3 separate regions of the Homo sapiens genome follow, and regions 1 and 2 are each linked to region 3. Evidence: fine-mapped expression QTL. A gene starts in region 3. Each other region holds a variant in brackets. All regions are shown on one strand. Distances are between the middles of the regions. Region 1 overlaps SYNRG (synergin gamma). Region 2 overlaps DUSP14 (dual specificity phosphatase 14). Region 3 holds the start of SYNRG (synergin gamma).

What was found. PIP is the estimated chance that this variant, and not a neighbour inherited with it, causes the effect. A credible set is the group of variants that fine-mapping cannot tell apart.
Region 1: its variant is the best candidate, but not a certain one, in a credible set for the expression of SYNRG in lymphoblastoid cells (GEUVADIS, PIP 0.78).
Region 2: its variant is the best candidate, but not a certain one, in a credible set for the expression of SYNRG in kidney cortex (GTEx, PIP 0.87).

Annotation. Positions count from the first base shown.
Region 1 is chr17:37,535,820-37,541,044 of GRCh38, forward strand. SYNRG (synergin gamma) reads right to left here. Exons shown (of 22, transcript NM_007247.6): 16 at 4,561-4,724; 17 at 3,373-3,426; 18 at 2,505-2,601; 19 at 160-308. Among named protein-coding and RNA genes, the nearest start is that of DUSP14, 49 kb to the left of the region's middle. The variant T/C (reference allele first, on the strand shown) is at 2,861.
Region 2 is chr17:37,512,493-37,517,717 of GRCh38, forward strand. It overlaps DUSP14 (dual specificity phosphatase 14), which reads left to right. Exons shown (of 3, transcript NM_007026.4): 3 at 1-1,006. The coding sequence ends at 377. SYNRG (synergin gamma) reads right to left here. Exons shown (of 22, transcript NM_007247.6): 22 at 2,315-5,225. Among named protein-coding and RNA genes, the nearest start is that of DUSP14, 25 kb to the left of the region's middle. RefSeq lists a silencer at 16-406 and an enhancer at 165-678. The variant C/CAA (reference allele first, on the strand shown) is at 2,916.
Region 3 is chr17:37,606,236-37,611,460 of GRCh38, forward strand. It overlaps SYNRG (synergin gamma), which reads right to left and starts at 3,183. Exons shown (of 22, transcript NM_007247.6): 1 at 3,044-3,183. The coding sequence starts at 3,120. It overlaps DDX52 (DExD-box helicase 52), which reads right to left. Exons shown (of 15, transcript NM_007010.5): 15 at 3,504-5,225.

The sequences.
Region 1 (5,225 bases), 70 kb before region 3:
TTCAACTGACCACACACCTGTGATCTCCCTCCTTTAATATAACATGCTCCAGTTGGCACCTCCAGCCTCTAATAAGTACCATCATAGGAATATACACTCTGCTTTACAACTTAGGTTTCTGGAAAGGAAAGCAACTGCTGAGTTGTCTCATGGGCTTACTGTGAGTGTGGCGAGTGACATGAAGCCGATTAGGTTATTCCATACTTTATCGATGTCCTTCAGCAACTGCTGGAGTTTCTCACTGCACACTGCAGTGGCTTTTATCCCCAGCTCCACACGCTTGGTTACCCTGTACACTTCAACAACACCTGACGGGATGAGAGAGCAGAGAGAGAGTGTTGGCAGTGGAGACACAGAGGACCCAGACAGGGGAGCATTATTGCTTGCTGATATCTGTGAGAAACAATGGGTGTATCTGGACAGAGGTGTACTTACTATTCTTTGGGACCAATCCACTTCTCAATGCTGCTGTATAGCTTACTGGTAAGAGCATAGAAGCTGCACTGCTTGGGTTCAAACCCCAGCTATGCCTCTTACTGGCTACATGACCTTAGGCAAGTCACATAATCTCTCTGTACCTCAGTTTCCTCATCTGTGAAGTTGGGATGGTAACAGTAGCTCCTCCAAGGATGGTTGAGAGGATTAAATAGGGTAATATGGTAAAAGGCTTACAACAGTGCTTGGAGAATGGCAGGCACTATGCAAGTTATTAGCTTTTGTTTTTTGGGAGGTTTATTTATGAGTCCATCTGTTTGAATCTGGGAAATCCCAATAAACTAGCTGAAAATGGGGATAGTAAAAATTTAAAAGAATCTAAATGTTAATAGCATCACAAAGTAATGAAGAAACATCTCACCCCTCTGAATCTGAAGGTCTTACAAACACTTTGACTTCACTTATCTTTAAACACATAACAGGATGCAGAACAGTTCTTTTCCTATGGTCTCTAAATTGTGGTTGAACTCTTGAAGCAAGGATGAGAGGTGCTAAGTACCTCCACATTCTAAGGACAGCCACCAGACACATCCCTAACCCCTGCAATGTAACAGTCACCAAAGACATGACCCCGATCTCTCTAAGTGAACACTGGAGGAATTCCAGGGGATCTTCAGAGCGGGGCCTCAGCAGCCCTGTGTCAGCACTACGGCTTTTCTTCTTCCTTTCCCAAGAGAGGGGCAGAAATTACTGCCCACCCTAAGCCAAGTGAGGGGGCTTCTAAGAGAATCTTCCATAGATACAAGGATACTAGGAGAAAAGACAGGTGCCCCATTTCCTGGTGGACATCTGCTTATGCAGAACTGTGCCTGTTTGAGCAGGAAAAGAAGACCCCAAGTGAGGTGGCAGGAGTAAGGCAGAGACTACATCCCTTCACTCTCCACTCATCCAGCAAATATTTTTGAGTGCCAACTACGTGCAAGACACTAGATTAGGTGTTGGGGACACACCAGTGAACAAAACAGACCAAAATCCTTGCCTTCTTGGAGGTTCATTCTAGTGAAGGGAGACAGAGAGTAAAAACAACAAGTAGCTAGGTGCAGTGGCTCACGCCTGTGATCCCAGCACTTCGGGAGGCCAAGGTGGGTGGGTCGCTTGAGCTCAGGAGTTCGAGACCAGCCTGGGCAACATGGCGGAAACCTGTCTCTACAAAAACTACAAAAATTAGCTGGGTGCATGGTGGTGCACACCTGTGGTTCCAGCTACTTGGGAGGCTGAGGTGGGATGATTGCTTGCGCCTGGGAGGTGGACGCTGCAGTGAGTCATGACTACATCACTACACTCCAACCTGGGTGACAGAGTGTGAACCTGTCTTAAAAAAGAAAAGAAAAGAAAAGAATAATAAGTAACATATGTAAGAAATTAAAGGTAATAGGGCTAAGGAGAAAATCCAGCAGAGAATGGGATGGGAAGTACCGGGGTAGGGAGAGACGATACTCTTTGGAGAGATGGATGCTAGGAAAGATTTCACTCAGAAGCTGACATTTGAGTAAAGATTTGAAAAAGATTAGGGTCCAGCATGTGTGGCTCTGGCCACGGGCCAAGCCTGAGCTTGGGGAAGGGAGGAACACCGAAGTGGACAGAGACTACACTTTCCCGTTGGACTGACACATCAAATTGCTGCAGATGGCCAGGAGGTTAAGGACTCTGTGGTGTCATTAAGCGGTCGAGAGAAAGAATATAGAGTATGGTAAGGAATTGATGGGAGACAAGATGATTTTACTTTAGTGCATCGGTAGTTCAGATTCTTTGATAAACCAGTAACACAGATATAATTTTACATTTTTGCTATTACGTATATAACAAGGATGAGGAAACTTAGCCATAGAGACTTTTTAATTAAGTCCAATAGTTTACTGCCTGTAGCTTGAGTGTCTTACCCACAAATACAGATGCTTCTTACTGAAGTCATATGTAACTTGAGAGATCTAGCTTAAAATAATTAAAGGGAAAACTGAAAATAATGCAAAGGGCCATCATTTTCAATAGTAAAATATGAAAGAACATACCTAATAAATATTCCATGCCTTGAGCTGACTGAATTACTTCTGTGCAAACAGAACTACTACTGATTCCATTTAAGGTATCATTTGCCTTCTTAATGACCTACAAGAAATGAAATCACATCACCTTACATAACTGAGAAAAGTCATTGCAAATCAATTTACTATTAGTAGAAAACCCAACCGAAAAGCCAGGAGGTGTCAAAAAATCTCATTTTATCCTTGAAGAAACAATCCTCCATTTCTCTGGAAGAGAAAATATGTTTTTTTCCTTTTGTTTTGTTTTGCTTTGTTTTGAGACGGAGTCTCGCTCTGTAGCACAGGTTGGAGTGCAGTGGCAAGATCTCGGCTCACTGAACCCC[T/C]GACTCCCGGGTTCAAGTGATTCTCCTGCCTCAGTTTCCTGAGTAGCTGAGATTACAGGCACGTGCCACCACGCCTGGCTAATTTTTGCATTTTTAGTAGAGACAGGGTTTCACCATGTTGGTCAGGCTGGTCTCAAACTCCTGACCTCGTGATCCGCCCGCCTTGGCCTCCCAAAGTGCTGGGATTATAGGTGTTGAGCCACCGCACCCAGCCAAGACAGGTTCTTTAGCTTAAATATTATTTTGATTTAGTCAGAGTTAATGAAATCACTTTGTTATTTCTTAAACACAATGACAGATGAGGGGATGACTGACACATGAGCCGGTCTGCTATTGTAAGTGTGAAAGAAGCCTCACCTTAGATGCATGACTTCCACAGAGTTACTCTTTGCCCAGGGACATCCAAGTAAGGCTCTCCTGAAGTTTGCCTCTGTCAATTCAAATGAACCAAGAAGGCAAAAAGGCACAAAAGAGCACTCACATATGTGTGAACGCGTAAGTGACATACTCACATTCAGGGCACTCCCCAGGCATCTCTGCCATTCATATGCATATCTCTCATTTTCCTGTGAATTTGTTAAAAAGAACTGGGTTAAACACACAAACCTGGAATCTTCTATTGATGACTCTGTCAATTCAAAGTGCTTGGAGGACTTTCCTTTTTATTACGATCACTCTAGTTCAAGCAGTTTATGTTTTTTTTGTTTTTGTTTTTGTTTTGAGATAGGGTCTTGCTCTGTTGCCCAGGCTGAAGTGCAGTGGCATGATTTCTGCTCACTGCACTGGACGCAAGCAATCCTCCCACCTCAGCCTCCAGAGCAGCTGGGACTACAGGCACGCACCACCACATGAGGCTAATTTTTGTATTTTTGGTAGAGGTGGGGTTTCACCATGTTGCTCAGGCTTGTCTTGAACTCCTGAGCTCGAGTGATCTGCCCGACTTGGCCTTCCAAAGTGCTGAGATTACAGGCATGAGCCACCATGCCCAGCCGCAGTTTATCTTTTTGAACTCACTAATAACTATGTTAAATTACTAATAAATGTAACTTCTGAGCACAGGACCTGTGAGTCTAAGGGACATGCTTTCCAGCAGCTTCCCCCTGTGAGTGTTGCCTCATTTGTTCCATCAGTAACAGTGTAAGCCTTTCTTCGGAGGCACTCAGCATGTAGCTATCTGGTACAGAAACTGCTATTAAGCCACTGGCTTTCCACGCCCCAGTTATAACGCTGTGTGGCTGTGTGTGAGGACGTGGCCCATGTGCACATGTAACAAGGAGTAGGGAAAGGTGGGAAATTAAGTGTGTTGACCATAGGAGGAACATAGCGTGGCACTAAGATGCAGCAGACAGAAATAAAAAATTCAGAATATTTTCCCTGTCTCCTCTATTTTGAGGTTTCATGAAGACAATAAAGTCTAAGTGCTCAAGAAGAATTATACAAACACTGCCATCCTTGTGAAGTCCCATGAATAGTTTTGGTTTTAGGGTCACTGATTAGTTTCAGTGGGTGCCACACCTGGGAAATGTTTTCACCCAGGGCTAATGTTACCCTTGCCTCACTTTAATTACATAGTTTATGTCTGGTGCTTTGTGTCTTTCTGCCCCTCATTTTCCCCATGTGAAAGCTGACAGCATTCTTTCTTGGGGCCCTGTGTGCTTGCTGGTCTGTTACCCACCCCTTGTAGAAAGCTCTCCTCTCACCTCCACCTCTCCCGTCAGGTCTTTGTACTTGTCTCGGATGACGGGCAGGGCGGGCTTCTCATTCAGAGTATTGGAACGGTCTCTGAAAGGCTGCTCCAAAGCTGGAGAAGGAGAAGAACGGCTTATTTCTTTATCACCAAGGCTCAAACTCCTCTTGTGTGATCCTGGGAGAAGGGGATAATACAGTCAAAGGTTTTGGCTACTCACCTTAGTTCAGGCAGAGGCTCTTCCTCGCTACCACAACCCTCTTCTTTTTTTTTTTTTTTTTTTTTTGAGACAGATTCTTGCTCTGTCGCTCAGACTGGAGTACGGTGGTGTGATCTCGGCTCAGTGCAACCTCCGCCTCCTGGGTTCAAGCAATTCTCCTGCCTCAGCCTCCTGAGTAGCTGGGACTACAGGTGCACACCATCATGCCTGGCTAATTTTTGTATTTTTAGTAGATACACGGTTTCATTGTGTTGGCCAGGCTGGTCTCGAACTCCTGATCTCAAGTTATCTGCCTGCCTCCCCTCCCAAAGCGTTGAGATTACAGGTGTGAGCCACCGCGCCCAGCCCACGACCCTCTTCTTCAGATGCTTATGTCATGAGGCATTCACAAACACATTCCTCATTCATTCTTTCTGGGAAGCTACATGTTAAATCTTTTCTACTGTTCTCTCTTGCAC
Region 2 (5,225 bases), 94 kb before region 3:
TTAAAGTGCCTCTGGCTGACATGCCGCATGCCCCCATTGGACTGTACTTTGACACCGTGGCTGACAAGATCCACAGTGTGAGCAGGAAGCACGGGGCCACCTTGGTGCACTGTGCTGCAGGGGTGAGCCGCTCAGCCACGCTGTGTATCGCGTACCTGATGAAATTCCACAACGTGTGCCTGCTGGAGGCGTACAACTGGGTGAAAGCCCGGCGACCTGTCATCAGGCCCAACGTAGGCTTCTGGAGGCAACTGATAGACTACGAGCGCCAGCTCTTTGGGAAGTCGACAGTTAAAATGGTACAGACACCTTATGGCATAGTTCCCGACGTCTATGAGAAGGAGTCCCGACACCTGATGCCTTACTGGGGGATTTAGTGCCACTGAAGCCTGCGTCAGCAGCCCGAGCGGGGCCGGCATCTGCTCCCCGCCGTCTGCTCCCTCTCCACTCTCTTCTCAAATGGCTGACTTCTGGTTCTCCCTCAAGTGTTTTTTACACTGGGTGTTCAAATTTATTTTAAGAGATAGGGAGGGAGGGGACATAAAGGGAATGCATACATTGCTAGTCACATTTTTAAAATTAACATTTTGGAATAGTGTTTATGGAAATCTTTAGCTTTTAATCATTTTTACCAATTTGAACAGTTTAATAAACTGGTTCTGCTCTCTTCTGAATCTCATGCCTTTGGCACCTTGGTAGGTGCAGGAGGAGCTCAGTGCAAAAATCACTTTGGGGCCTCATTAACCCTTTAGAGACAAGCTTTGCCCCAGGCTGCGGACCAGACAGATGCTTAGGGAAGGTTGATAACCAGCTTCAGTCTCTACTGGATTAGCCCTACTCTTTCCTTTCCCCTCCATTATTTAGTGACTCTGTAAGTAAGTTAAATACACCCTTATTATTTAGCTGTTAAGTAACTATAATGAAATCTGCTGCAAAATCTCTCTTGGAATCCATGTGCCCAGGATTATATTAGCATTATTTTTAATAAATCTATATGCTTAACATATTAGAATTTTTACTAATAATTTCAAGGTGTGTGTGTGTCGATGATGGGAAAAAGGTGCTCTCCAGTAACTAACTAACTAACTGCTGAAATGTGGCTCCTGTGCCAGTTGGGAACATTACTTAAAATACACATCCCAGCAGAGTCTTGTCGGCGCGTCACATCCTGGTGGACAGGCAGACACACCGTCCCCGGTGCTGGGCCGGTGGGAGATGATTGATAGTGCACGCTCTGATCAGGGGTGCTGGTTTTGGTTTCCTCTTGGTTAGTGGAGCGCCCCGAAGCAGCGTGTCCTCCATCAGAGAAACTGGTTTTCAATAAAAGGTGCCTCTGCTTGACTATTATTACCACATACGAAAATGCCCTAAACCAAACCTCAGTATGAGCGATAAGCAAGTAACAAAAACAAACAATGGCTGCCTTTGTTTAACTTTGGGACTGTCTGTCACCCAGTTCACTGCTCCTGATAAAACGGGCAGCACCGCTCATCATCATCAGATACATGGTAGAAGGTGAATGAGCTCGCCCCTGTCCCACTCCTGGGACACTCCTGGGCACTTTCCACGTGCCCCCAAGTAACCACTGTCCTAGGGCATGCCTTTCTTCTGCATGGAGGGCATCCTGGGCGTCTGCCCGTGCAATGGGAACCCGCTGCGGCACTGCTCTTTGGCTTCATTTATCAGGAAGGTTGTAGCTTGCTCACCAGAGGAATAGTTTTCTAGATTTTTTGGGTCAGTTTTGGCAGGAAGCCATACATAGGCCAGTAGCTACATATTTAGACAAATATACTCCACATTTTACCTGGTTTGTGGCAATGGTTTTTTCCCATCTAAATTCTACCTTTTATTGCTTTATACCCGTGGCTGCCCACTGTTATAAACATGCATCATTATTCTCTAGAAAAACTAAAATGAAAAAAATTATTAATAGTTTCTATGGGAAATCAGAGGAAACAACAAATGCTATAAGATCAAAAAAAAAAAAAAAAAAAAAAAATCCAGGGAGGCTCTGGCTGCTTTAGTAGGAGGCTCAGCTTTGAGTCTGGGAGTTTCTGAATAAGAGCACCCAAATAACCATTGTCCTAGGGCGAGAAGACACCTGGTGACAGATGTTCTTGGTAATTAATGAAAATTACCTGTAGAATTCCTGGCAAGCAGCACTACGGGGCTGTAACTAAGAGTTCCTCGCACGTGGGAAGCTGAACACCTTTGTAATCTTAAGCGCATGGGCCCCTGTTCATCCTAGTGACTTGCATCTATGTGAAATCAACCCAACAAAGACAAGACCAAGAAAAGGCTTAGTAGCCTGACATTCTTCTACACTTGTATTTTGGTTAGAGAAGTTTAACAAGGGGTGATTTCAGAACAGACCCTGAAAATATTTTAAAGGTAAAGCTTTATAATGTCTAAACACATCAATTAGAGCAGTTGTTTATTAAAATACAAACAAGGGAGAAACCACACCATCTTTTAAAATACAGGCGCGAATTCCACATCACGCAGAAGACAACGCATTTCGCTAAGGGCCACAGCATTCACTGGTTAATAAAGCCACAGCTACAAAGTAATGAGATGTCCCACATGAATACTTTTTAACCACTTACATTCACGTCAACATATAAATAATGGAATTAAGTAAAAACTTCATTATAATGCTATTTTGTTAGAAAAGTATTTGTAAAGTGGCATTTTTCCCCCAAGAGCTGTTTCACTTAAGCTTTATTTCCTCGGCCTGGCAAGGGGAGGGCTTTTCAGTATTGTTATTTGGTACACACTTACCTGAAGAAATAAGTAAGTAACTTAAACATAAAAAACATAGTCGACACACATCTTGCCCTGCATTCTGACATTTGCTGGAATGGTCTACAGCAGGCTACAATGCTCCCTTCTGAATGGCAAATGTCTGAAAATGT[C/CAA]AGTTTATTAACTGTTCACAAAGGCAGGCATTTGACCTTGAAGGTGTTAAAGGGAATTTTTTATTTTTGAGACAGAGTTTCGCTCTTGTTGCCCAGGCTGGAGTGCAGTGGCGCGATCTCGGCTCACTGCAACCTCCGCCTCTCTGGTTCAAGCAATTCTCCTGCCTCAGCCTCCCGAGTAGCTCGGATTACAGGCACCTGCCACCATGCCCAGCTAATTTTTGTATTTTTAGTAGAGACAGGGTCTCGCCATGTTGGCCAGGCTGGTCTTGAACTCCTGACCTCGGGTGATCCACCCGGCTCGGCCTCCCAAAGTGCTGGGGATTACAGGCGTGAGCCACCACGCCCGGCTAAAGGGAATTTTTGTAGTGGTCCCCAGTACAGGGCCAGCATTTCCTATTTCTGTAACATACAGCCCTATAATCTTTGCAAAGCTGAAGTACACTTGAAATAGGCAAACAGAAGACACCTTTAAACAAATAAGACCCCCCCAAAACCCTTCAAATATGTATATGTACACAAAATATTCAAATAATTAAAAATTCACAACCCCTATGGAATGCTAACTAGTAGCCACAGGAAAAATAAAGCATGGAAAATATCCTCATATATCCAGTACCTCTTCTATCTCAAGCATGTCCAGACAAAAATTAAATTACACACTAAGCCATAAAAATTTTAAAGGCAAAACATCCCACCAAAAAAAGAAAAGTGCTTATTAATGGCCATTCAAGCAGTGGGGTGAAGCGGGCTGACACAATGCACAGTATGGAAATAAGTAACCTTGGCTACAGTTTCCAAGGACACGGGGCTCCTGGCTGACAAGAAGAGCTGAGGTGAAGCTGAATGCAGCGTTGAGCCATTTTAATAAACGTTTATAAAGAAAAGCAGCGCAACCGTGTCCCACACTCCTTGGATCCCTATTGGTGGCATCTAATTAAACATTTCAAGTATTCAAGAGATATGAAAGGTAGTGAATACTTTTCATAGCAAAGGCTTTTTTTCTGTTGACATCTGCTGAATTTTCCTGTGGCACCTCCCAAGGAGTGACTAAGCCTACCATCCTTGGTAAGGAAAATGGGGATTATACTAAGGAATTTTATCTGAGGCATTCTGGAATTTCTCAGGAATAGAAACCAGCCCAGCTACCAAGTGAGCTTTTTAAAATGTTGATACTGGGCCACTGTGACATGACAGGCATCTATATAGCATTTCAAAAAAATGCTTCAGCAATACAAATTCAAACTGGGAAACTTTTTTTTTTTTTTTTTTAAGAGACAGTGTCTCGCTCTGTCATCACCTACGCTGTCACGTGCAGCCTCAAACTCCTGGACTTGTGATCTCCCGCCTCAGCTTACCTAGTAGCTGGGACCACGAATGTCCACAGATGCACTCCACCTACCCGGCTAATTATTTTTTGTATAATTAGCTGGGGTCTTTACCATCATGCCCAGGGCTGGTCTCTAACTCCTGGGAAACATTCTTATTGCAAAGGTAGATTCTGCTGTCATGGTTCTGTTATGAAATTTAGGCCAGGCGCAGTGGCTCACGCCTGTAATCCCGGTACTTTGGGAGGCTGAGGCGGGCGGATCGCCTGAGGTCCGGAGTTCAAGCCTGGCCAACATGGAGAAACCTTGCCTCTACTAAAAATACAAAATTAGCTGGGCGTGGTGGTGCACGCCTGTAATCCCAGCTACTCACGAGGCTGAGGCAGGAGAATCGCTTGAACCCGGGAGGCGGAGGTTGCACTGAGCTGAGATTGTGCCATTGCACTCAAGCCTGGGCAACAAGAGTGAAACTCCATCTCAAAAAAAAACAAAGAATTTTTAAGGCCAATTAGCAGCCTGCTTGCATTCCAGCTCCATGTGGAAGTGGTGCTGTCCAGGATGGAAGCGCCGAGGCCTCAGGAAAAGCCTGCCAAAAGCTGTCCCACTTGTGTTGTTAGAAACACCCCACTAGCCTTGTGGTGGGCAAAAGCTCCAAAGGTGCCCATTCAGAGTGAGCTGCCTCAGTCAGGAATGGCCAGAGACGGTATCATCGGGAGCGAGTGAGAAAAGCCTTTCTCTCCTCGGTGCCTCTCTGTGCATTCGGGCACGCAGAAGGTCAAGCAGAAGCCTCAGCAACAGCTGTTTAATGAAAATGTTCCACACCTTTCTTGGAGAACATGGAAAAGCTGTAAGATGGAGCAAGACAGAATTTGTCCTGAGAGGGGAAAATAAATTATGTAAAAGCAGCAATTATATAGACAAGACCAACTTTTTCAGTTTAAAAATAAAAGTCTAGGTCAGAGGGTCTAAACCACACAAAGTA
Region 3 (5,225 bases):
CTGTGACGATCTCTTGACCGCTTCCTCTTCCTCTAACTCTGTGGGCCAAATGAAATACCACTTCTTTGCCTTTGATATAGCTGAAATCCACAAATATTTACAGAATGTTTTTTATGTGCAAAAATGTGCTAGAAGCAGTGAAAGAAGAAAAGATGAGGAAGCCCTCTAAAAGCTTGTAAAAGATCAGGAAAAAATAGACAAGTTCACAGATGATAACATCCCAGAAGAACGTGACCTCTTTGTTCCACTTTACTTTGTACCACAGTTATTTTGTACATTCTCCAAGGATGGGGACCATGTTTTGATGTCTTTTTAATTCATTACAGCATCAAGAACAGTACCTTACCCATGTAAGCATTCAATGACTACAGACTAATCCAGATCTTTCAACTCTTTTTTTTTTCTGCCTTGATTAAAGAAAAAAAAAATTTATACTTCTCATCTCTTGGGCAAATTTTGCCCTTTATACAACTCTACCATTTATTCTAAAGTAGCTCATCCAGGACACCAATCAAAAGTAGGGTAATATTAAATTTGGAAAACGTTATTGTGTTTTGCTTAGCCTCTTAGAATATAGAGAAGTATCTAAACAATACAGTCAGTTATAGTTCATGGATTTTCTCCATTAAAGGTGTAGAGAAGTTGCCTGTTTTTTTTCTTCAAATATACTTAGGTTGCCATAATGTTAAGTTTCCTTATAAAATAATTTCAGGGAGGGTGGGTGGCAAAAAGAAAATTAAAAAGGAAATAAAATAACTTCAGCCTTTACACCATTACTCTCTAAAAAAAATAATATTCCTTTTTCTATTGAGGATACAGCTTCTCAGCCTCAGAAAGTTGCCAATATATGTAACATATGTACCATACATTTTTCAAGGTAAGAATCATTTTAACCACTTCTTTCTCTCCTGTATATCGTTTACAGTTTTAGAATGCAGATGTTGCTACATTTACAAAGGGGGGAAATTTTAAAATCATTCTAATTTCTATCAAAATTCAACCCATATTTATTTTAAAAATTTGTGTCCATGGACCAATGATACTCAAATACTGCAAACTAAAGGGAATAATGCACTTGAATTTCTGAACCTGAGGTCCTCCCCATCCAAAAACATTTTTTAAGTAAATAAAAATTTGGGCCTAGATATCAATTCTTCTAAGTTTACATTTTCCCAGAACTTGGTGCCATGATTAATCATATACTTGATCAAATTAATACCATCCAGGGACATTTTAGAAACTGTAATCACATATAGGAAATAAATAGAGGATGCCGGGCGTGGTGACTCAAGCCTGTAATTCTAGAACTTTGGGAGGCCAAGGTGGGCGGATCACTTGAGGCCAGGAGTTTGAGACCAGCCTGGCTAACATGGTGAAACCCCGTCTCTACTAAAAATACAGAAATTAGCTGGGCGTGGTGGCGCACGCCTGTAATCCCAGCTACTTGGGAGGCTGAGGCAGAAGAATCGCTTGAACCCGGGAGGTCGAGGTTGCAGTGAGCCGACATCGTGCCACTGCACTCTAGCCTGGGTGACAGAACGAGACTCTGTCTCAATCGATCAATCAACAAAATTAGCCGGGCATGGTGGCGCGCACCTGTAATCCCAGCTGCTCCGAGGCTGAGGCAAGAGAATCGCTTGGACCCAGGAGGCAGAGGTTGCAGCGGGTCGAGATCACGCCGCCGCACTCTGGCCTGGGCAACAGAGCAAGACTTCCTCTCAAAAAAAAAAAAAAAAAAAAAAAAACAAGACAAAAGAAAAAGAAAAAACAAATAGAAGGGAATTATTACATATGTTTCTTCTCCAGCCAGAAACTGGCTTACACGAAGTATTTATTTTTTAAAAAACCCTCTAATGAAACAACGGAGAGAACAAAAGAGAAAGCAAAAAGTTTAAAAATCTAAAGTTAAAGATGTGCAGAGGAAATGAAAAATGGGGTTACACACAGGTGGTTTATTGAACAGCCACTGCTCGTTTCCTGACAAGCACCTGCAAGAGGTGATAACTTTAAGGTCCTTACACTTTTGTAGTGTTCACGACTCCGAAATTGAAACACTGCATATAAAAAAAAAACCTAACACTTCGTTTTCCAAAGACAATTTAGGATACTGAAGATGCAAAGCTACTTTTACCTCCAAATGTGTGTGCTGTTGTGTGTTGGTTAGTAAAACAAAATCAGACTAGGTCATTATAGAAGTGGAGTGAAAACTTCCTAGAATAAAATATTTCCTTAAATGATAACGAATCTGTCAGCTTGTAAAACGTACATCTCCCTTACCATTCTGGGTATAAGAACCACGGCAGTTCTTGGCTGAAATGTGGCAGAGGGCAGATTTGTTTAAGGGCTGAGTCTGGAAGCTTTGTTCTAATAAATGCGCAACTGCTGTTTAACAGTGCACTTTCTTTGTTTTTAAATGCCTTTTTAAAAAGAAGACAGACAAGTCTTAAGAGTTAGTGTACAAGACAAGAACTCTATCTCAAGACCATTACTAATTCAGAGGTCTTTAGATGTTCCTGCTGTTTGTCGCGGGTTAAGGAAATAAAGAGGACAGGACACTCTAAAAGGGGAAGAGACAAATAGTCCACACACACACCCCCCTTGGAAACAGTCCTCCAGCTTTGTGAACAGATTTTTAAAGCCCTCCCTCCAACATATCCGGTTAAGTCTAGAAAGCCCAAGGAAAGGGAAGACCCTGGTCGCTTCAGAGGCAGCTAGGACTAGGAGCGGAGTCGCGGTTCCTGATTTGCCCCGCCCCCCCCCACCCCAAGAGGACCCTCATCTTCTCTCCCCTCCCACACTGGGCGCGCGCTCGCTCCCCGCTCGATTCCAGGCGGCCGGCGCCCCCAACTGATCCCGGAACACCAGCGTCCAGCACCTGGGCTCCACACGCCCCTTTCGGCCTGGGTCCCTGGGGGATGACCCTCCTCCCGCAGCCCAGTTCCAAGGAAAAGGATCAGGGCTGGAGAAAACTGCCATAACTGCCAAGCGCCCCTCGCCGCCCCCGCGGAGGCCAGCGGGCTCCCGCCCGGCTCTTCACACCTACCCGCCTCCCCCGGCGGACCCCGCGCCAGCTCCCGCGGCCCCGCCGCCACCAGAACCAGCTCCTGGCCGCAGCGCCATCTTGCTCCCGACCTGCCGCTGCCTTCGCCGCCGCCACCTTATCAGCAGCTGTCAGCTGAACACAGCCACTTCCGGGTCAAACACCAGGCCCCACCTCGCCGCGGACCGGGCGATGGGGCGGGGCCTCGCGCCCACGTGACTCCCCCGGCCCTCGGGGAGGCGTGGCGCGCCCACGGCACGTGACCCGGCGCCGCAGGGGTCCCCCAGATTCAATTCTAGCTCTCGGGCTGGTGGGGCGGTCGCGGGCGCCTCTCCAAGGGAGCTGATTCATTGTCTGGTAGGCCCTCTGCAGGGCCCAGCTGGCGGCCCAGTGGCAAAGCGCCGTTGGTCCTCCGTTTGAAAACCATGATCGCGGTTAGTGGAAAGAGTAGGCTGAGTCCTGATTTTTAAACTATACGGTGGGTACACTGGTGTTCTTTTATTGTTACTCTTTACACACAAAGAACAGATAGGTCCTGAAGGGCCCTTTGATAGTCTCGCAGCACTGATGAGTGATCAGCTCTCCCCTCTTTCTCTGGAACTCGGTAGCTTCATGTTGGCACCTATCACAGACGCTGAAGGCATTTAAATTTTATTTTAAATCAACCAAGAGCCCAAAAACCCAACCCATATTTCGAAAAAACTCCAAGGTGTACTACTCTTGTTTGGTTCTGCCATCCTGCCACCTTACAGTCCTTTTGTTTTTCCTATTCTTGCAGGCAAGTGCAAAACAGTGGTTTTTGGAAGGCAATTCATAATTACTCTGAAGCTATTTCGGCATATTTTTTACTGATTTTTTTTTTTTTTGAGACAGGGTCTTGCTCTGTTGTCCAGGCTGGAGTGCAGTGGCATGATCATGGCTCACAGCAGCCTCAGCCTCCCTGGCTCAAGCGATCCTCTCGCCTCAGCCTCCTGAGTAGCTGGGACCACAGGCATGCACCACCACACCGGGCCAATTTTTTTTTTTTTTTTTTTTTTTTTTTTTGTAGAGATAGGATCTATGTTGCCCAGGCTAGTTTCAAACTGCTAGGCTCAAGCTATGCTCCCACCTCGGCCTCCAAGTGCCAGGGTGTGAGCCACATGCCTGGGCTGTGATTTTTTTTTTTCTTTTAATCAAACTACTGTCTGGAAGTAAAACATGAAAGTTGAGTAATTTTCTCAAGCACGTAGTTTGCTTGCTAACAAGTAATGGATTAATTAGCTTTACGTTTTCACTCTTGTCTCAAGGTTTTTACTGGGTAATAATTTGTAATAAGTTATTAGGCACAAACCACTGGTCAGGAACTGTACACGCATTTTAAAAAATCCTCAGTATCCTTAGGAGTTACAATTGGCATCTTACAGATGAGAAAATCAAGGTTAGAAACAGTTACTGTCATTTGTCCAGATCATACAGCTACAAGCAATGAGGATCAGGATTCAAATCCAGGCCAGTTTGACTCTAAAGTCCTTGCTCATTTCACCAGAGCCAGCTATTCAATTTTTATGTTTTTTCTTTTGCTGTAACTGCCTGTTCACTAATTTCACTCCTTCCCTTCCTTGTGTGAAGCTGAAATTTATGTAGCACATAGTTCCAACTGCTTTGAAGGAGCTAAATTTAGTATTAATACACTGACTAAGTTGATACAGGTTACTGTAGATACTTTAAACAGACACAATAAAGTCAAGGATCATAGATGTGACCTCAGTTTGTCCTGGAATCCTTTTTGTTCCTCTTCTTTGCCTATTGGTTTTTACATTTGCAGGATTCAACTCAGGATGTCGGCCTTCCATGACATCCCCAATCTGGGTTAGATGCCCTCTTGTGATGCTTTAGCATCATGGCCTTACATCTAACAGAGCACTTGCCACACTAGTCATGTGCTACATGATGATGTTTTGGTCAGCCACAGACAGCAGATACAATGGTGGGATGAGAAGTGGGGGTGGAAGACAGTGAGACTGATGATCCTGACCTTTTGTATGCCTAGCATAATGTGTGTGTTTGTGCCATGGTTTTTAACAAAAAAGTTTTAGAAGTAAATAGTAAAACAAAACAAACAAACAAAAATTAATAGAAAAAAAGCTTCTAGAATAAGGATATAAAGAAATAAAGTATTTTTCTACAGCTGTACATTTGCATTTTA